Linked DNA regions of Homo sapiens: all the other regions are reported to be linked to region 2. Evidence: microRNA targets listed by miRTarBase, many of them from high-throughput screens and not tested one by one. Region 2 holds a microRNA gene; each other region holds the end of a gene's coding sequence.

Region 1 (5,148 bases), not on the chromosome of region 2:
GCAGAGCGTTTAACCGGCACTCACATCTCACCAAACATAAGACAATTCACACTGGAAAGAAACCCTACAAATGTAAAGAATGTGGGAAAGCCTTTAACCACTGCTCACTACTTACTATACATGAGAGAACCCATACGGGAGAGAAACCCTATAAATGTGAAGAATGTGGCAAAGCTTTTAACTCATCATCAATTCTTACTGAACATAAGGTAATTCATAGCGGAGAGAAACCCTACAAATGTGAAAAATGTGACAAAGTCTTTAAGAGGTTCTCATACCTTACTAAACACAAGAGAATTCACACTGGAGAGAAACCCTACAAATGTGAAGAATGTGGCAAAGCTTTTAACTGGTCCTCAATCCTTACTGAACATAAGAGAATTCATACTGGAGAGAAACCCTACAACTGTGAAGAATGTGGAAAAGCCTTTAATCGGTGCTCACACCTTACTAGACATAAGAAAATTCATACTGCCGTCAAACGCTATAAATGTGAAGAATGTGGCAAAGCTTTTAAACGGTGCTCACATCTTAATGAACATAAGAGAGTTCAAAGAGGAGAGAAATCCTGCAAGTATAAAAAATGTGGGGAAGCTTTTAATCACTGCTCAAACCTTACTACGTAAGAATTTTTACTAAAGAGAAATCCTACAAATGTAAAGAATGTGGCAAATTCCATAAATCTTGCTCAAGGCATTGAAATCACAAGATAATTCATACTGGAGAGAAACACTACAAATGTGAAGAATGTGGGGAAAGTCTTCAACCATTGCTGACAGCTTATTGCACAGAAGAAAATTCATGCTGAGAAAAATTCTGATTTTAAAGAATGTGGCAAAGCATTTAATAACTACTATGAACTTACTCATCAGAGGTTTTGTGCTAGATAAAAGCAATGTAAGTGTAATGATACACATTACATTTATCTGTGGAAAGATGTCACCAAATAAAAGCCTTAGAGTACACAAGGTGTAATGATAGTGATACATTACATTTGTACATGGAAAGACTTCAAAAATATAAGCCTTAGAGTACACAAGAGTTTTTATACTGAAGAAAAACATTACAAATATAAAGATTGTTGCAATACTTTTACTTATGTTACAGATTTTGTTGTACATAGGAGAATTTATACTGAAAGGTAACCCTCTAACAGTTGCTCAAATTTTATTCCATTTTAGATAATTTACATTGGAAAGAAACCCTACAACTGTAATGAATATGAAAAAAATTGTTTAAAAAGTACACCTTAGAAAACACTAGTTTAAGGCCGGGCGCGGTGGCTCACACTTATAATCCCAGCACTTTGGGAGGCCGAGGCAGGCGGATCACGAGGTCAGGAGATCGAGACCACGATGAAACCCTGTCTCTACTAAAAATACAAAAAATTAGCTGGGCATGTTGTCGGGTGCCTGTAGTCCCAGCTACTGGGAGAGGCTGAGGCAGGAGAATGGCGTGAACCCGAGAGGCGGAGCTTGCAGTGAGCCGAGATCGCGCCACTGAACTCCAACCTGGGCGACAGAGACTCTGTCTCAAAAAAAAAGAAAGAACGCTAGTTTATATGAAAGCATTTAACAGATGCAGTAAATATAAAAAATTAATAAAAAATTAAGTCTAAATGAACATCAGAAGATTCACAGTAGAAACCACTAAGACGCTAACACTTTCAATGTTATTCTAAATCAGGGCATTGATTATAAAGAGTAATTCAAGGTTAACATAATTTAGTTAGCCTAAACAGAAATAGGAGATTAATATTTTGAGACTTAAACAATTATATTCAAAGTACACTTTTTGCATTGAAAGAATTTTAGATTTTTACAAAGGCAAATTTTGATGTAATTGAACTCTCAAATTACTTGATGCTGTGTCTTTATTCCTAGTGTCTGTATGAAAGCATGTGGTCAATTTCTGCTGCTCGGGGTTTGAGAAGTTCTATATTAGGATGTCATTTACATACTTTTCAACAGAAGATTGAGGACACTGAAATATGAGGTGTGTGAAGAAAGTACACAGAGAAACTTTTGTGGTTGACTTATAAAACTTGTAAGTGCTGCATGAGATAGATGTTCAGAGTAATAGTCTTGTGCATTATTCAAATTTTAGTAAATTGTTTTACCAATTGCACATTAGATAGTATAGTGGATTTTGTAATGCTTTTCTTAGACTGTGTGAACTTAGTTTCAATAAAACAATTATTTTTAATGTGTTAAGACAGTTGTGCATTGAATTAGGTGTTATCCTGCCACCAACATTAACCTATTTTACCTTACTCAAGTCTCTAGGTAACAGACGGTAACAACATACTATTCAGTAATATAGTGGAATGGCATCTCTAGTGATTCTTATCCTTAGTGACTTTAAACTTCAAATACGTTGGAGAATATTGTTTCCATAGGTTACATTTTTATTATTTTTCTTCTAATTATAGAGTCATTAAGATGATTATTATGAAAATTACACAGGCATATAATCAAAAGCCATATATTTCTGAATCTTAAGTGAGTATGTAGAAGATGTTATCTCACATTTTTCTTTGAACATGCAACCTCTGTGGCCTTCCAGACACACATAGACTCTTTAAGTTTTCACTTACATGAAAGTTTAATATACAAATATGTTACTCTAAAGATAAAGTGTAAGGGAATTATGAAGCAAGTAATTGTATTTGAATGTGGATGTGTACCTATTTTGAGAAGAAAGAAAATATGTTAGAACAAACTGGTAATTTTTAAAGTGTTGATAAGTTACTACCAAACTGGAAACCTCAAACAATTTCAAAGCAAATCTATTTTTCCCATTTGTATTGAATTCATTTTTTCAAAATCTTGTGGTTCCTAGTTCAGAATCTCCTTAAGTAAATCTAGGTTTTACTTGCCTGGTATTGATAGTAGACCTAATGCATAATTTTCTTTTTTTTTTTTTTGAGACGGAGTCTTGCTCTGTCACCCAGGCTGGAGTGCAGTGGTGCAATCTCTGCTCACTGCAAGCTCCACCTCCCAGGTTCACGCCATTCTCCTGCCTCAGCCTCCCCAGTAGCTGGGACTACAGGTGCCCACCACCACGCCCAGCTAATTTTTTTGTATTTTTAGTAGAGACGGGGTTTCACCATGTTAGCCTGGATGGTCTCGATCTCCTGACCTTGTGATCCACCCGCCTCAGCCTCCCAAAGTGCTAGGATTACAGGCATGAGCCACCATGCCCGGCCAGTTTTCTTGTTCCAAAGTTTATAAAGTATTCTTTATATAATCTGCTCGGGAATTATTGGAATAATTTTTACAAAATTTAATGGTGCTTGCAAAATAATTTGAACATGTAATTTCATAGTAAATATGTTGTAACATTTTATTTAGTACATTTTTTTTCAATTGGAGAACTCTAAGCCAATCTTTCCTTTGTTGCTCTTTTAATTTTTTTTTTTTTTTTTTTTTTTTTTTTTTGAGACGGAGTCTTGCTCTGTCGCCCACGCTGGAGTGCAGTGGTGCGATCTCGGCTCACTGCAAGCTCCGCCTCCCGGGTGCACGCCATTCTCCTGCCTCAGCCTCCCGAGTAGCTGGGACTACAGGCGCCCACCACCACGCCCGGCTCATTCTTTTGTATTTTTAGTAGAGACGGGGTTTCACCGTGTTAGCCAGGATGGTCTCCATTTCCTGACCTCGTGATCCGCCCGCCTCAGCCTCCCAAAGTGCTGGGATTACAGGCGTGAGCCATTGCGCCTGGCCTTGTTGTTCTTTTAATTTTTATAATTAACATTGAGTTTATTGATCTTATTGGGTTAATTTCTTTAGGTGAACACTAGGGAGATGTCATCAGTCATGGTAGTGTTTGTTTCTTTTTTTATCAACTCTTACGTCTCTACATCAGACATGGTGTTGTTTAGTCATAAATGAAGTGAACAAACACAGAAAAGCACTACCATGTGTAATACACACTCCATAATTAGTGTTCCAATTGGAGTGAGTTGGTGGCTCCAGGAGATTAAAATTGCCGTGAGGACATCACCATTTAATATTCAGTGGACATCCTGTTAATATTTACTGTGTTTAACTCTTCAGATAGAATTGAGGCCCTGTGATTATCTGCTTTCTTCATTGAATTATGCCAAGCAGCTACAAAAGGGACTGCGCAAGTTAAGTGCTTAATATACGTGTATTTAGTGAATGGAGCCTAACCACAGCCTTCCAAAATATCTAAGTGGGCCTGAGGCCCGTCTTTCAGCACCCAGGGACCTCTGTTATGTCTGTGTGAAGGACAAAGATCGGCTAAAAGAATTGCCTTGGGAGTCCAAGGCGGGCGGATCATGAGGTCAGGAGATCAAGACCATCCTGGTCAACATGGTGAAACCCTGTCTCTACTAAAATACAAAAAAAAAAAAAAAAAATTAGCCAGGGGTGGTGGCACACGCCTGTAGTCCCAGCTACTCGGGAGGTTGAGGCAGGGGAATCGCTTGAACCTGGGAGGCAGAAGTTGCAGTGAGCCAAGATCACACCACTGCACTCCAGCCTGGGCAACAGAGACTCCACCTTAAAAAATAAAAAAGAAATAATAACTATAATAACTCTTCTGTTCATAAGTGGCCCTTCAGATGGTGACATTAGAGTTCCCAACATAAGGAAAGTGGCCTAAATCCCCTGCACACCTCCCTTTTTTGTACTGACCCCATGATGTAAAATTCTGCCATTTATTCATTTGCCACAGACAAACTTCCTTTACAAAGGCAAAAAGAGCATTGCTTCAGATTGTGAATGTATTTGGACACAGGGTCATTAAAGAGGTAATTAAGCTTGTGAGTTCATTGGCATGGGACCTAATTAAATATAATGGGTTCTTATAAGAAGAGGTAGTAAAGACAGAAGCACAAGAGAAGATTCTGTTAACACAGAGTTAGAAGACAGCCATCTACAAGCCAAGGAGAGAGGCTTGGAGAAGTCATTCCACCAACATCTGTTAGATTTCTAATTTCCAGAACTGTAAGAAACTAAATTGCTGTTTTTAAGGCCCTTCATTCTGTGATGCTGTGTTATGGCAGTCCTAGCAAACGATTACAGCCTATTAGTACACACACACAATATTCCCTGCAGCATGACTGACATGGAAATAGGATGTTATACCAGGCTGCATCAGCACTGAAAGACTGAACCACGGTGG
Region 2 (5,148 bases):
CACTAAAAATACAAAAATTAGCCGGGCATAGTGGTGCATGCCTGTAATCCCAGCTACTCCAGGGGCTGAGGGAGGAGAATCGCTTGAACCCGGGAGGCAGAGGTTGCAGCAAGCCGAGATTACACCATTGCACTCCAGTCTGGGCAACAAGAGCGAAACTCCGTCTCAAAAAAAAAAAACAAAAAAAATAAAAAAAACACGTAAACACATAAGAAAAAAACATGTAAGAAATGAGTATCTCAAAAAACACAAAATGAGAGTCTCAAAAAACCCACAAAAAAACACGTAAGAAATGAGAATCTCAGAGAATAAGATCCTCTGCTTCAAACATTCACTACTTCTTGAGTGTTAACACTCCCTGAGAAACGCAAAGGAGCGTTTTTAACCTCTGTAGGCATTGCTCATGAGGCTCACATTCGTTTTGCAGATATTTAACTGAGGCACCTAACATGTGCCAGGACTGGGCCAGGTGGCCTCAAGCAACTTCCAATTCAAAAGACAATAGACTTTTAGGACAGCTGGGAATAAACTACCTAGAGTTTACTGTGTGTTCAAAACACTAAGCTAAAGCCTCAAAGGCAAGGAGCCAGAAGGGGCAGGGATTGCTTTGTGCAGTCCTTTCTTGGTGACATTCGTGCCTTGCTTGTGGGCTCTGGTTGAGGAACAAGCTACCTTTTGAGAGAAGTGCCGAGGCAAAGGGGCGGGTGGGCAGGGCGGCTCACCTGAGCTTGTTCTTTAGGGAGCTGACTTCGCGGTTCATGGCATCGGCCGTCTCAGTGGCGTCCTCCAGCTCGCGCTGCAGTTTCCGGCGGGAGGCGTTGGCCCGCTGGGCCTCCTCTTCGGCCTCCTCCAGCTGCCGCTTGAGCTGCTTCAGGCGGGTAGATGCCTTGTCGGCCTGCGGAGATGGACGTGTGGCCCGTGGCCCCGGTTAGGGGCTCTGGGCGTGCAGCCAGTCAGCCCCACTGCCCTGCCTGTCACCCCATCTGCTGCCCAGCCCCGCTGCCCTTCTCACTGCCCCACCAGCGCCCACACCTGGTCCTTGTACTGCTCGGCGTTCCTCCGCTCGTCATCCACCTGCAGCAGCACATCCTTCAGCTTCTTCTCGGTCCGACGCACCTGTTTGCAGGCTGCCTGGCGCTCCCTGCATGACAGACAAGGTGGCTCAGAGGGAACACCCTCCTTCAGAGGGTCCGGCCAACAAGCCCTAACCAGGACCACCCATTCCCCGGGGCTCACTGGCATCTAGGGATCACGTAGGGAGGCCTTTGCTAGACACCTATGTGTACCCGGCTTCTTACGACGGGCACTGCAAATAGCCCCATTTACAGATGAGGAAATGGGCTCAGGTAAGGGAAGCGACACACCTCAAAGAGCATCTATGTAACTGGAAAAGAGGTCTGGGGGCCTACTGTAAACCCCATTCCCTCCAAGGAAGTCTCAGTCCTGCTGAGCCCATAGGACAACTGTCCTAGTGGGCAGGACCCCCCTGTACCTCCTGCTCTGATTCACTCTCAGACACAGCCACCAAAACTCCTGGCTTTAGAGGTGGAACAGAGAATCCTGTTCAAACCCCACAAGCTCCCCCAACCACCCAACCTGTGGAAGGGATGAGGGCCCCATCAGGAGGGAGGGAAACAGCCCCAGGCTCAGGAGACAGAGAGCTGGTTGTGGCCCAGATTTGGGCAGGACTGCAGGGGGGCCAGAGTTTTTTCCAGGACAGCTGGGGTTGGGCGGGGCCAGGGGCACGTACTTGGTCTCGTTGTCCAGCTGCTCCTCCAGCTGTGCAATCTTGGCCTCGAGGGCGGTGATGGAGGCCTTGTACTTGGACTTGACAGTGCCCTCCATCTCCTGCAGCTTGACCTTAAGCTCCTTGTTCTGGCGTTCCAGCTGCTGCCGAGCATTCTCGTTCTTCTGGGCGTGGCTGCGCTCCAGGTTCAGGTCGGTGTTGATCTGGTCGATCTGCAGAAGAAGGGCCAGTGACCTTGGGGAGGGCTGGGGCCCTGGCTGGAGGGCATGAGCAGGGCCAGAGGAAGGTGGCAGCAGGATCCCACCAAACCCTTGGGGTCCAGAGTCTTGGGTCTCCCAGAAAAGGGAAGATTAGAAACTTCTGAACACCCAACACAGAAGCCAGAGGGGGACCTTTCAGGTCCAGGTGCCTGGACATTTTCCCCTAAGCGCCTGGGGAGCAGCTGGCACTTGGCCTGTGCTTCTGCCGGCTGGGTCCAAGGCCAGCTCTGCCGTGGTGGCTCCAGCCAGAGCCCAGAGTGGGAGAAGTCCTGGCACCCACCTGCAGGTTGGCCTTCTTCAGCCGGTCGTTGATCAGCTCCGTGTTGCCCTGCTCCTCCTCCAGCTCCTCCTCCAGCTGGGCGATGCGGGCCTCCAGACGCCGCTTCTCCTCTAACGCCAGGGCTCTGCGGGGTGGGCGGGAGAAGTGAGGGGCCTACCCTGGGGACACACCTGGTCCCCCCCAACTCTGCCCCCTCACTCAGCTCACCCTTTGCCGCTGCTGTTGGCGATCTCGTCAGCCAGCTCATCCCGCTCCTGCTGGGCCTGGCGCTTGGCACGCTCCGCGGCTGCCAGTTCCTGCCACAAAGACCCAGAGTGTGACCTAAAGGCAGCCACAGCCCCACAAGACCATCCTTCCCAGCCCCAGGCACCCTCCCCTCAAGCCCTTCCCCAGGCCCACCTCCCCACGAAGCCCTTCCTCCAGAAACCCTCTAGCTCACAGGGCTGGTGCCCCCCTGAAGATATAGCTTAAACACCATATGTTTATAAAACTCTTACATTTAAGTGCTAGGAATCAAGCCAGGTGCCAGGGTATGGCGATAAGTAAGAAGTGTCCTGGCCTAACCAGGGAGACCACGTGGACAGAGTCACTCAGGGCGGCCCCTCCCTGTTCTGGGTAAGCCAGAGCTTGGAGTCAGCTCTGGAGGCCACAGGCAGATGGCTACACCCTGGACGCACTCGCAGCCGGCACATCACGCTGCAGGGCACCCTCCAGACCTGGGAAACACTTCAGGACGGGCTCAGGTGCGACGGGCAGGGCGGCCGAGGGGACGCTCAGACCCCTTCTCACCAGGCAGCATTCACAGCAGGAGGTGGTGGTGGCCACAAAGCCTCATCTCATGTGAGGGATGCCAGTTTCACACACACACACACTCTGATCATACGAGGGAGCCCCGCTATGAAACGGAACCCTGGAGGGAATCCTTATGTAACCTGAGAGCCATCCCCAGCCAATTCCTGGAGCCCAGTAGGACTCCAGCCCTGTCCTCAGCTGAAAGCCCCACGCTGCCACCTGCTGGCCGCAGGGCAGCGGTGCCGCTCTCCATTGCAGCCCCACCCACCTCCTGCAACTGGATCATCTCGGCCTCCATGCTCTTCAGCTTCTTCTCGTTCTCTTTGGCCTGGGCCAGGATCTCCTCACGAGAGGCGCGGGTGTCATCCAGCTCGCGCATGCAGTCCTTCATCTGGGCCTGGGGTGGGGACAGAGGCTTGGCACCCCACCCAGCTCCTTGGCCCTCCACCCCAACCCTCATGGGTCACCTCGCCAACAGGGCTCATGGCTGGTGCTCCACTCAATGCTGTATTTAACCAACTAACCGTGGTGACAGGGCAAAAAGGCAACTAAAGACAATCATCTGTGTATCCCACCCCGTAATGCACACTTTGACAGTGTTCGTCACCGTGGACGTGAGCCCAAGCTGAGCTTCATTTTCTACTTTCTGTCCCCTCCTGTGGGCCGGAAGCCAGTGCCCATGGTGCCACCCCTAATGCGCACCTGCCACTCAAAACCAGTGCCCAGCCTGCCGGTCCATCCCCACCACAGGCAGGAAACACCTTTCCTTTTGTTATTCTCCTGTTACTTCTTTTAACACTAAAGACCTTTGTCAAATAGCCTTTTTTTCCTTTTGCAGATAAATCCGAAATTGAGATTCCCCAAATCAAAGAGAGTGACTGGCTGTGTGCAGCCCGACCACACCAGTAAAAAAATGCCACCAGCAATCAGAGCATCTATGCCCACAACCTTGACCACAATGAAGTTTTAAAGTTTTTGTGGGTTTTTTTTTTACACTTAACATTTTTTTTTTGGCCGGGCGCAGTGGCTCATGCTTGTAATCCCAGCACTTTGGGAGGCCGAGGCGGGTGGATCACAAGGTCAGGAGATTGAGACCATCCTGGCTAACATGGTGAAACCCCGTCTCTACTAAAAATACAAAAATTAGCCGGGCGTGGCGGCGTGCGCCTGTAGTCCCAGCTGCTGGGGAGGCTGAGGCAGGAGAATGGCGTGAACCCGGGAGGCGGAGCTTGCAGCAAGCCGAGATCATGCCACTGCACTCCAGCCTGAGCGACAGAGCGAGACTCCGTCTCAAACAAACAAACAAAAAAAAATTTGTTAAACTAAGGTTATTCTTGTTACATGATATGGCGTATCAGAGCTGTTTTTACGTGTTAATTATTCTTTAATTATTAGTGAGGTGAAGATTTCCAAGTATGTGTCCCACACTCCGGGCTGCTTCTTGGAACCATCGCCCCAGAGCCCAGAAGGCTGAAGGGTGTCAGGACCCGGGTGATTCTGGAAGTCTGCATTAAGTGAGACCTTCTTGAACTCCACCCATGTCTAGGCTTGTACTTGTTTGCTTCTGTGTTTTATGTACCCAGTCATACACCGTTTTGCAAGTTTGCTGTTGGACTATCATGTTTCCACTCACCTCTGAGCCTCTGAGTCTCTGTCAGTGAGATGGGGCTGGAAGCACCCAGGACCTTCCCAGGAGGTGCCACCCTGCCAGGTTCCCGCCCTGGGCCGAGCCCTGGCACCTTCATATGTAGTTGGCTCAGTCGGGTGCCGCCCACCCTCACCTGGGCCCCGCCCACCCTTACCTGCAGCTTCCGCAGCTGTTTGATGGCTTCGTCCCGGTTCTTGTTGGCCGAGTCGATGTGCGCCTCCAGGTCCTTCAGGTCCATCTCCAGCTTCTTCCGGGCGGCCACTGCCATCGAGCGCTGCTTCCTCTCGTCCTCCAGCTCTGCCTCCATCTCCCGCACCTGGGGGAAGGAACATCAACAACTTGGGAAGCTGGACCCACTGGGAGACCCTGCCCTAGCTCTGAACTCAGGAGCCTCAGGCCAGTTCTGCAGGATCCATGGGGC
Region 3 (5,148 bases), not on the chromosome of region 2:
AAGTTTTGATTGTTGTGGCTTATTCAACCTCACAACCCTGTATCAACAAGATTATGATTTCTGCACTGCAGTGAGTGTGTTGGGGGTGGTGCAGCAGCCAGGGGAGGTAGGAAACTGGGTAAGGACAATGCCCAAGTTGGCAAATTTAGTTTGAATGTCATTGTTTCTCTCTCTACAAGCCCTCTTGTATTGGGGCTGTGTTGGTGGGAGGTGGGGGTGGATAGAGGCTGGGGAATTAGCCAAGTAGGATTTTAGTTTGTAGGACACTGGTCAGATAACAGTAAAGTTTCTAGGGACATTCGGCATAGGTATTAGTCACTAGCAACTTTACATTCACAACTTTGCATTCTTCACGTTTTATCCTCAGATCTGCAAGAGCCAGAGCCCCACATGCCAGATGTGTGGAGAAAAGTTTCTTAAGCATTCAGACGAAGCCCTGAAAATCCTAGGGGGTGTTGGACTCTTCTTTAGCTTTACAGAGGTAACATTCTCCAGTTCCCTCACACACATCCTTTTTGAGACTGAGAATTAATTGATACTTATCTCTCTCCCTTTGTTCCTACAGATCCTTGGTGTTTGGCTAGCAATGAGATTTCGGAATCAGAAGGATCCTAGAGCCAACCCCAGTGCCTTTCTATGAGACTTTGGATCCTTCTGACTTTTCTTCTGCTCTCTCTAAGCTTTCTCTTCCTCCCTTAGGGAATATCTAGGGTCTGTAACCGTTTTGGTTTGAGAAAAAGGAAAGGCCCCTTGTCACATCCTCTAAAATTGATGGAATAGCAAGACTTTATGCCTTGACATATTTTAGTGGGAGCCAGACTATAAGGAATAAAAGGAAAAACTTTCTTCCTCTCTCTCCAAGAGGATATGGGAAGCTTCTGTGAGTGCATAGGATGGGGGCTGGAGTCATTCTTAGCTGTTTCCCTTCCTCTGTCCATATACTGGATCACCTCAACATACCCTGGTGTGGCTCTAAGGGTAAATCAGGGATAGGGCCAAGGAGAAAACAACCAAGAACTCTTTCCTGTAATAAGCAGGATCCAGTTTGAGAAAGTTTAGCGAATATAAAAGTAAAAGCCATTTAAAAATCTATATTCTTTTTTTTTTTTTGACACAGAGTCTTGCTCTGTTGCCCAGGCTGGAGTGCAATGGCATGATCTCGGCTCACCGCAACCTCTGCCTCCCGGGTTCAAGCGATCCTCCTGCCTCAGTCTCCCAAGTAGCTGGGATTACAGGTGTGCACCACCACGCCTGACTAATTTTGTATTTTTAGTAGAGACAGGGTTTCACCATGTTAGTCAGGCTGGTCTCGAACTCCTGACCTCAGGTGATCCACCCGCGTTGGCCTCCCAACGTGCTGGGATTATAGGCGTGAGCCACCACGCCCCGCCTAAAATCCATATTCAAAGAAGCAATTTCAGTTCCTTTCTAAGCTTTGTCAGTCAAGGGGCTCCACTGACTTCCTAGGCCCTGTAATTTAACCAGTCTTTAAGGTTTTGCAGGAAAGTCCCTTCTTCCAAGTGGTTTTTCCAAATCGCACAATGGCAAAGCCAAACAGAGGAAGAAACATTAAAAAAAAAAAAAAGACCATTATTTCTTTGTTTTGTTTTTCCTGTATAAAAAAGGACCCCAAATATAAAGGTAGGGAAAGGGACAAGAGGGAACATACCCCTTAGTGTAGAGAAATGGGAAGGAGAAGGAGAAGCCTCAAAAGGAGAGGTGGGAGGGGAATGTCATTAAGGCAGCAAAGTAATCTCTGTAGAAAGATGGAGGAGGACCCTCCATAGCCTCAGAGATAAAGGCAAAGATTGCCCTCTCAGTGTCCAGAAGGGAAATGGCAGCTTTTCTTCCTTCCATGGCAGCCACTCCATTGCTCACTCCGGATTACCTTCATCCTTATGTAGATAAGAGTGCTGCAGAGCTCGAAAGGCAGAGATTCGCTTGTGTGGGTTAAAAGTCAGCATTTCCTGAGGGGAGAGGCAAAGGTCAGAAAACCATGAAGAAAACAGACTTCTGCCCACCCACAACAATACCTGGGATGAGCTTTCTTCTTTTTTCTTTTTTTTTTTTTTTGAGACGGAGTCTCGCTCTATCACCCAGGCTGGAGTGCAATGGTATGATCTCAGCTCACTGCAACCTCCGCCTCCTGAGTTGAAGTGATTCTCCTATCTCAGCCTCCCAAGTAGCTGAGATTACAGGCGTGTGCCACCACCCCCGGCTTATTTTTGTACTTTTAGTAGAGACGAGGTTTCACCATGTTGGCCAGGCTGGTCTCGAACTCCTGACCTCAGGTGATACGCCCACCTTGGCCTCCCAAAGTGCTGGGATTACAGGCGTGAGCCACCGTGCCCAGCCAGGATGGGTTCTCTTCTATATCCTTCTCTGTGGGTGGCTATTTGCAGCTGTAATAAAAACTACAGCCCATCTACCAACCAAGTTTCATTAACCACAGTGGCCAGGGCCCTGCATACTGCTCTATTTCTTTCCCCAGTCTCTATTTCTTTCCCTGTGCCCACAGCCATCTCCAGTACCAGCAGCAGCTGTGCTCCCGACTCCTCCATCTCAGGTACCACCGACTGCACTGGGCGGGGCCCTCTGGGGGGAAAGGCTCCACGGGGCAGGGATACATCTCGAGGCCAGTCATCCTCTGGAGGCAGCCCAATCAGGCTGTGGGGGACAGGAGAACTCTGGTCAGGAGGGTCCTCCAGTTCCCATCCCCATGGGCAGAGCCAGTTGCCATCCTGGGTTCAGCAGAAAGAGGACTCAGAATAGAAAATCTTTTTCTCCCATGTTGGTCACTTACTCAAAGATTTTGCCCAACTGGTCGGCTTCAGAGTTTCCACAGAAGAGAGGCCTAAGGTGAGAAGGGATATAAGGTAGCAGTCATTTTCAAAGATATCTTAGTTGAATGGTTACTGCTTAGTGGCTCAAAATAGGAAGTATAGGGAATAAAGGCCAACAATTCCAGCACTTTGGGATGCTGAGGTGAGAGGACTGCTTGAGCCCAGGAGTTCTAGATCAGCCTGGGCAAGCAAGACCTTGTCTCTTTTTTTAAAAAAAAAGAAATGCCAGGTGCAGCGGCTCACGCCTGTAATCCTAGCACTTTGGGAGTCTGATGTGGGTGGATCATGAGGTCAAGAGATCGAGACCATCCTGGCCAACATGGTGAAACCCTGTCATTACTAAAAGTACAAAAATTAGCTGAGCATGGTGGCGTGCACCTGTGGTCCCAGCTACTTGGGAGGCTGAGTCAAGAGAATTGCTTGAATCTGGGAGGTGGAGGTTGCAGTGAGCAGAGATCGCACTACTGCACTCCAGCCTGGCGACAGAGCAAGACTCCATCTAAAAAAAAAAAAAGCCAGTCATGGTGGCGTGCACCTGTAGTCTCAGCTACTCAAGAGGCTGAGATGGGAGGATTGCTTTAGCCCAGGAGGTAGAGGCTACAGTGAGCTGTAATTGGGCCACTGCACTCCAGCCTGGGTGACAGAGTGAAACCTTATCTCAATAAATAAATAAATAAATAAATAAATAAATAAATAAATAAATAAAAAATAAAGAGAATAAAGGGATATGAAGTTCCTAATTCCAGAACATTTCAGAGCTTTCTGCTATGGGCAAGTTAGTAGTACGCAAGTAAAAGAATGGGGCCAGATGCAGTAGCTTATGCTACTTTGGGAGGTAGGGGTGGGAGGATTGCTTGAGTGCAAGAGTTCAAGACCAGCCTGGGCAATATACTGAGACCCCATCTCTATAAAAATATTAACAAACTAGCCAAGCATGGAGGTGCGTGCCTGTAGTGTCAGCTAGTTGGGAAGCTGAGATGGGAGGATCACTTGAGCCCAGGAGGTTGAAGCTGCAGTGAGCTGTGATCATGCCATTGCAATCCAGCCTGGGCAACACAGCAAGCCCTGGTCTCAAAAAAAAAGAATGGGCAAGGTATGGATGTGGTTTATGAACAAGCGATTTGGGGAATTCAAGGTAGTCCAGGGTATGTGGGTCCCATACTTTCGACGAAACATCTCTGCAAAGATACAGCCAACACTCCACATGTCCACAGGTGTTGCATATGTGGACTGCAGAAGAACTTCGGGAGCTCGGTACCAGAGTGTAACAACCTAAAGGGAATAGGAAGAATGGATGGGGACCCCATGGGTTACCATGAAACACAACTTGCTTGACTGAACACATGAAGCACATGACTTCTCAATTGCTACGGGCAATCACTCTCCTACTCCCAACCAGAACCCATTTTGGTACCATCTTTCTACTGACCACGGGTGTAAGTGCCATCTGGTAGCTGTAGATTCTGGCCAGGCCAAAGTCAGCCAGCTTGACTGTTCCACCACTTGTCACCAGAATGTTCTCTGGCTTCAGATCTCGGTGAACGATGCAATTGGCATGAAGGAAATCTAGGCCTCTTAGAAACTGGCGCATCAGATCCTAGTTTCAAAGGGGAGGTACAGATGCACTGGAAACTAGGCACCATACCTGAAATCCCAGAAGGTTCTACTACAAAGGTCCCAATCCACCTCTCAATGCCTACCAACCCCACTCACCTTGATCGTTTCGGCTGGCAAGCCTGGTGGGGGTGCCTTGTCCAGATATGTCCTTAGGTCCTGGTCTACATGCTCAAACACCAGGGTTACCTTGATCTCCCGGTCAGTTCGGGATGTGGCACAGACGTCCATCAGCCTGACCAGAGTAAATGCTCACTTTTCAATCCCCTTTAACCCAACATGGCCTCTCATTATTTCCTCAGGGTCCCCACTTCTCTACAGATCATCACACCCCACCTATAGGCTGTCTTTTCCCTTTACTCCCCACGCCCAACCCTCCACCACCTTCTCACCGGACAACATTGGGATGCTCAAAAGCCTCCAGTCGCCTCAGTAAAGCCACCTCACGAACTGTGCTGATGGGAAGGCCTCCTCCACCTCCTCCTCCATTGGGGACTCTCACACTCTTGAGGGCCACAAAGTGGCCACTGTGGGGATCACGGGCCTTGTACACTGTCCCATAGGCACCGACACCAATTTCAGCCACTGGCTCATATCGAGAGGTAGCCATTCTCAGATCAAGGGAGACCCTACAATCACAGACTCCTATCACCAAAAGTCGCTTACAGAGTTAGGATGGTATGAGCCTGCA
Region 4 (5,148 bases), not on the chromosome of region 2:
TGAGGAAATGTTAGAAGGAAAAAATATAGTCCAAACAATTTTTGTAATTTGCCTTGGACCCTAACAAAGTTATGGCAACTGACTTTTTTATTTATAAAATGGAGAGAAGAGTAGGTATTTCCTTCACCTTGTTATAGCTACTAATTTTGAAATAAAATGTAAAGTGATAATAAATAAGATTATCTTGGGACTGATAAGAGATAATGTATGGACAATTAATTATTTGAATCCCTTAAAATCTAGAAAGTCCTAAAAATGCATTAAATAAATGTTCTAAATTGTTCCGAGCAAAGAAATCACCAAATAAAAAGAACAAATGCTAGAAGAATATTTGTAAACATTCAAATCTCTGTATTCTGCCACTTAATCCACATTTAAGTTTACAGAAATGTTTTATTTCTTTTTGAAAATTACCTTGTAGAAATGTGACTTTTCTATCAAATATATCTGTAATTAGTCAAAGTGCTATAGTGTATGTTGAAATCAACAGTTCTATACTCAATAGTATTTAATTCCTTGTGCTTATAGTTTTTTCAAAATTGGCATAGACTATAAGTTCTGAAAGCAAAATATGGAATGCATGAATTTTAAATGACAGAATTAATTAAAATTCTTTACTGTTATTGACACGTACAATTTTATAGAAGCTTGGTTGAATAATATTTGCATATGATTTACATTTGATTTCCTCATACTCATTTTTGCATATAGTTTGCAGGCATTTCAATGTATAGTAATTTCATATATTTGGAGTAAGACTGATAGATGGAAGGGAGTCATTCAACTAAATTGTTGAAAGGGGAAGGCCCTGAGAGAGCTCAACTGTTCTTGGTCCTTGGTGGCCTCACTGGGCAGTAACAAGGGCAAGTCTATTGAAGGGCAAGTTCACCTTGATCAGATAAGCTGAGTCTCGCACTCTGGAAGAGACTTGAAGTTCTGTTGGTCAGGTACTTTCCCTGAACACAGTCCCTGCCCCCCAAAAAATGTCCCCCTCCCCAAACAAAAAGCATGGAGAAATGGTCAAAACAACCGTGGCTCCATATATACTTCTTTCTCAATTTTGAAATCTATAAATATTTATAGATGTTCTTTATTTGACAAATAAAAATTGTATATATTTATCATGTACAACTCGATAGTTTGAAATATGTATACATTGTGGAATGGATCAGTTGAACTAATTAACATATGTATCACCTCACACACTAGCATTTTTTGTGGTGAGAACACTTAAAATGTACTTTCAAACACTTTTGAACTCTCTAGAATTTTAGCTTGTCCAATCTCTTGAGAGAAATGAGTCCATCAATACAGAAAATCAGCAATGGGAGGCAAGAAGAGATTCTTTGAACTAACACAGGAAAAAAGCACATCTCAATATTTATTTAGATAAAGGGTGTAGATTGTCACTGCTGGGAAATATTTGCTGGGTTACCCATGTTAACGATCTGAATAAATTTAGAGTTGGCCTACAGTGGTGCTCAAATTGGCTCATCTCCAGACATGAATGAACATAGAGCTGCTCTCTTTGCTTTTGGTGTTTCCCTAATTCTCTCATTTTTTTTTTTTTTTAGGAGAAAGAGGAGTAGCTTAACTATGGGTTGAGGAATTTTAGCTAGATGCCAAAATTCCATGCCACATGCTAGAGCCTGGCAAGTTACTGAAGATGTTTATAGCTGCTATTTAGGCCCAAAGAGTCAATTCTGGCCTCAGGGATCACAGGCTTTTCTGGGATGGAATTAGTAAGATAATTATGGTTATTCCTACGCAGAGGGATAGGATAAAACATGCCTCCCAGAAAGACTGGTCTTGTGACACATAGAGGATAAATAAGAAGATAATAAAAATTGGAAGAAGGGTAAAGAAGGGGCAGAAATAACAGAGCTGGCAGCTAACTCTTTGTGAAGGGCGAAATAGAATGAAGAGTCATGACTGACTTCTAGATTTCTGGTCTGAGTGCAGTGATGTCATTCATTGAGTTGGAAAAAAACACAAGGAGAAGTAGGTTTTTGGGCTGTGTTAACTTCATAGTAACTATAGGATAACCTACTGGATATTCTCACTAGGCAGCTAAATGCATGGTATAGAGCTCAGGAAAAATACCTGTGGAAAAAAAACTTAAAAAGTGGTGAAAGAATCCGAGGAAATGAAAGAAAGCATGTGCAGGTAAACTGAGGCAGGGCAAGGACTAAGACTGCTACCATTTTATAAACCTCAAAAGCCTTCACTTCTGAAATGTTTTTTTCCAAAAAGCTTACGGCTCTTTGAGGATCCAATGAGTATACTAAAGTAGAGATTGCAAAGGCAAATGACTTCAAGACCGAGAATCTACAAAAAAAGATAAATAACTGGTTATAACAGGGACTAATTAAACTAGGGAAGGCATGTTCTGCCTAAGTCATTCGAGTTTTTTTTTGTTTTTCGTTTTTAATTCTGTTGGTGCCCAAGCAAAATACATCATCTACAAAGAGGACTTACTCAGCATGGCAGCCAGCTTGTGCCTCCAGAGTAAACGTCTATAAACCAACTTCTTGCAAATCATTCCCTGAACACAGATAGCCTGGATTGAAATCTCCTGGAGAGCACTGACCTTAACATCTACTTATATTTTCTTCCAAATCCAACACAGTGACCACAGAGAAGGCTACCTACCTCCTTTTAGGGACAGCCTGAAGATCTGCAATACTCACCAGATGCCTAAAGAAGAGGTTAAAACATTTCTGCCAATTCTTAGTAGGGTGAGACACACCTGCCCCTTGATGCCCTGCAGACATAACAGCTGTCTGCCAGTACTTCTCATAGAACTAATTCAGGGCATCATTATTTAGAATTCAGCAATGAAAGAGTGTGTTTCCTTTCTCTCTTCCAATGCAACTACACAACAACCCCTTAACATTGTAGAGATTGGAAAATCCTGGTTTTCAGGATTTTCAGGAAAATCTGAGAGCAATCTCTTTTTGGAAGCTCTCCACATTCCTGCGATCTTTTCTTTACATGCTTGGAGCATAAGGCCTTCTGGATCCAGAGCCAAGGACACAGTCAGGCTGTTTAAAGTATTCTTCAGTTTGAAAAGAAATGGGCCCCGTACAAATGTGTGAATTTGGTGAAATTGCCTTTAACAACCTTACCAAATGTATCAATACCAGGTGAGCCTTTGTTCTGATCTCCATTTAAACCCCCTGCACAGCCTAGAGCAGTTGCATATGACATAATCTCTCCTCTCCTTAGTATCACAGCTTTATGCATCATCTTCTCCAAAAAGCAGCTTTTTGATAAAGGACTTGGCCACTTGGCTTTCTCTGATCTCCCAATGTAGTTCTTTTCCAGTTGTAAATGTGACCCAGCTACTAACAGAGAGAATCACTGAAAAATAGAACAGTGGTCATACAAAATTTCCTTTCCCAAATTTGGCATTTTTACATCTTTGTCCTTAACTAAACTCTCAGCAAAGCCCATGAGAATATCAATTTTCATGTGTAAATCCTCATGAAGTGCAAATTTGATACGCTCACACTACTGTAGGTTCTCAATAATGATTGAATTTAAACCATGAAATAAAATCCACTTGTAAAAAGCCAGGAAGTTGCCTTGTGGTTGGAAGGTAAGCTCTGACAGATCAGGGAGCAGGGTGTTGAACTGTCCCTTCAAATGCTACTACAGGATAAAGAAATGCTTTTCTGTAACAGTGTGGAATTAAACTGTAGCTGACCAGACCTTTTCATGATCCCTTCTATAAAAGAAGCTCAAAGCATTGTGGGTGGTCAATCCAGAGAATGCTTAATAATAACCCCTGCTGGTATAAGTCAGTATTACACCATTATCAAGTTGTTAAAATCAGGCTTAAGTTAAAAACTGGTAAATAATTAACAAGTGCCATTATTTGCCTAGCATTGAACTAGGATCATGATAGCTGCAAAATATGTATGAGACATTTTTCAGTCTGTAAGCATTTATATGACTGTTTTCCATTTTAAAGTTGAAAAAGGGATTCAGAGTCCACATTCTCTCTTCTTAGTTGTCCCAGCAGGACAGTCCTCACTTCCCCAGCTTATTATCCAGAAATACTGGGAACATTCTGCCTTTCAGGCCAAATGCCCCCAACTTCCCTGATCACAGTTGCTCCTGAATAGTTTCCGGGTGTACTGAATGAAGGCAGAATGCCTCAGTGGCCCCGCAGGAGGCTTTCTTCTCTTGGGAAAGCCCCAAGCTGCCACTTTGCTTACTCAGCCGACTTTGCCCTGGCAACTGCTGCCTCTCTTGTCTGAAGTCTGGGCATAGCAGCAGCAGCTGATTTTGGCCTGCCAGCTGGTATCTGAGCAACTGCTCTTGGCCCTCCTTCCAGTTCCCAGTCTCTTGCAGGTACACCTGCTGAGCAGGAGCACCTGGAGCACAGATGTGCCCATGGGATGTGATGCCAGTAGTACCAGGAGCAGGCACAGCAGCCTCTTCCTCTCGGACAATGTGGCGGCTAACTTTCCTTCTGGACACTCCATTCATCAACTGGTGGGGGCACTGGTTCACCTTGCCCAGCATGACCTTCATTCTCATATCTGGGGGGAAAAGAAATAGGGGAAGAAATGGATTTAGTTTTCAACCAGTTAATTACACATTTTGCATACTTAGCATTTCTGACAAGATATTGTCAAATCAAAGATTGAATTACATCAGCTCTTTGATTTCCAAATATCTTTTATCAGACACTCCAAATATGTAATAAAAAATTGGTAATACTTCTTCCTCAAAAAATACTTACATGATGTTGATAATTGAATGAGGATTTTTCATTGTAAGCGCTAGGCTTCAATGCAAAAACCAGACCATGGTCAGGCCTTACCAACTGGCCAACTCACACTTACCAACAGGCCAACTTACCAACAGGCCAACTTACCAACAGGCCAACTCACACCTGTGTTAAGAGATATGAACTATAAAAACCAGTCCTATCTAATACTTAGGCTCTTATACCAAGTTCACAATGTAAATATCTTTGGTATTATAAAAACATGAATATAAATATTTGCAGAAATAATCACATAAACATCTATGTATATGAGTGTGTACATGTATGGTTGCATAACAGTAGAAAGAGAGATGGCACATTACACTCAAGTCACAAAATTAGGCCCAAGTTCCCCTTCTCCTGCTATC

What was found. Region 2 holds the annotated microRNA hsa-miR-6819-3p (AAGCCUCUGUCCCCACCCCAG, at 3,477-3,497, opposite strand). A microRNA usually pairs through its seed, bases 2 to 8, with sites in the 3' UTR of a target mRNA and lowers its output. Matches are read on the target gene's strand: a 7mer-m8 pairs with bases 2 to 8, a 7mer-A1 pairs with bases 2 to 7 and ends in A, and an 8mer does both.
Region 1: the mRNA of ZNF682 is a reported target of hsa-miR-6819-3p. Seed matches in the 3' UTR shown: 7mer-m8 at 1,433-1,439.
Region 3: the mRNA of TSPAN31 is a reported target of hsa-miR-6819-3p. Seed matches in the 3' UTR shown: 7mer-m8 at 3,398-3,404 and 8mer at 3,436-3,443.
Region 4: the mRNA of PKHD1 is a reported target of hsa-miR-6819-3p. The part of its 3' UTR that is shown has no 7-base or 8-base seed match.

The regions. Positions count from the first base shown.
Region 1 is chr19:20,001,483-20,006,630 of GRCh38, reverse strand. ZNF682 (zinc finger protein 682) reads left to right here. Exons shown (of 4, transcript NM_033196.3): 4 at 1-2,213. The coding sequence ends at 626. It also overlaps the pseudogene BNIP3P12. Among named protein-coding and RNA genes, the nearest start is that of ZNF682, 35 kb to the left of the region's middle.
Region 2 is chr22:36,283,371-36,288,518 of GRCh38, forward strand. It overlaps MIR6819 (microRNA 6819), which reads right to left and starts at 3,537; the gene lies at 3,477-3,537. MYH9 (myosin heavy chain 9) reads right to left here. Exons shown (of 41, transcript NM_002473.6): 34 at 4,882-5,043; 35 at 3,348-3,476; 36 at 2,495-2,583; 37 at 2,288-2,411; 38 at 1,751-1,959; 39 at 1,033-1,141; 40 at 723-895. RefSeq lists an enhancer at 3,026-3,538.
Region 3 is chr12:57,746,651-57,751,798 of GRCh38, forward strand. It overlaps TSPAN31 (tetraspanin 31), which reads left to right. Exons shown (of 6, transcript NM_005981.5): 4 at 1-70; 5 at 368-481; 6 at 566-3,569. The coding sequence ends at 640. CDK4 (cyclin dependent kinase 4) reads right to left here. Exons shown (of 8, transcript NM_000075.4): 2 at 4,850-5,086; 3 at 4,557-4,692; 4 at 4,273-4,440; 5 at 4,006-4,115; 6 at 2,804-2,854; 7 at 2,532-2,667; 8 at 1,077-1,967. The coding sequence starts at 5,067. The coding sequence ends at 1,875. MIR6759 (microRNA 6759) reads right to left here and starts at 2,032; the gene lies at 1,968-2,032. RefSeq lists a silencer at 4,810-4,949.
Region 4 is chr6:51,614,971-51,620,118 of GRCh38, forward strand. It overlaps PKHD1 (PKHD1 ciliary IPT domain containing fibrocystin/polyductin), which reads right to left. Exons shown (of 67, transcript NM_138694.4): 67 at 329-4,550. The coding sequence ends at 4,111. Among named protein-coding and RNA genes, the nearest start is that of PKHD1, 470 kb to the right of the region's middle.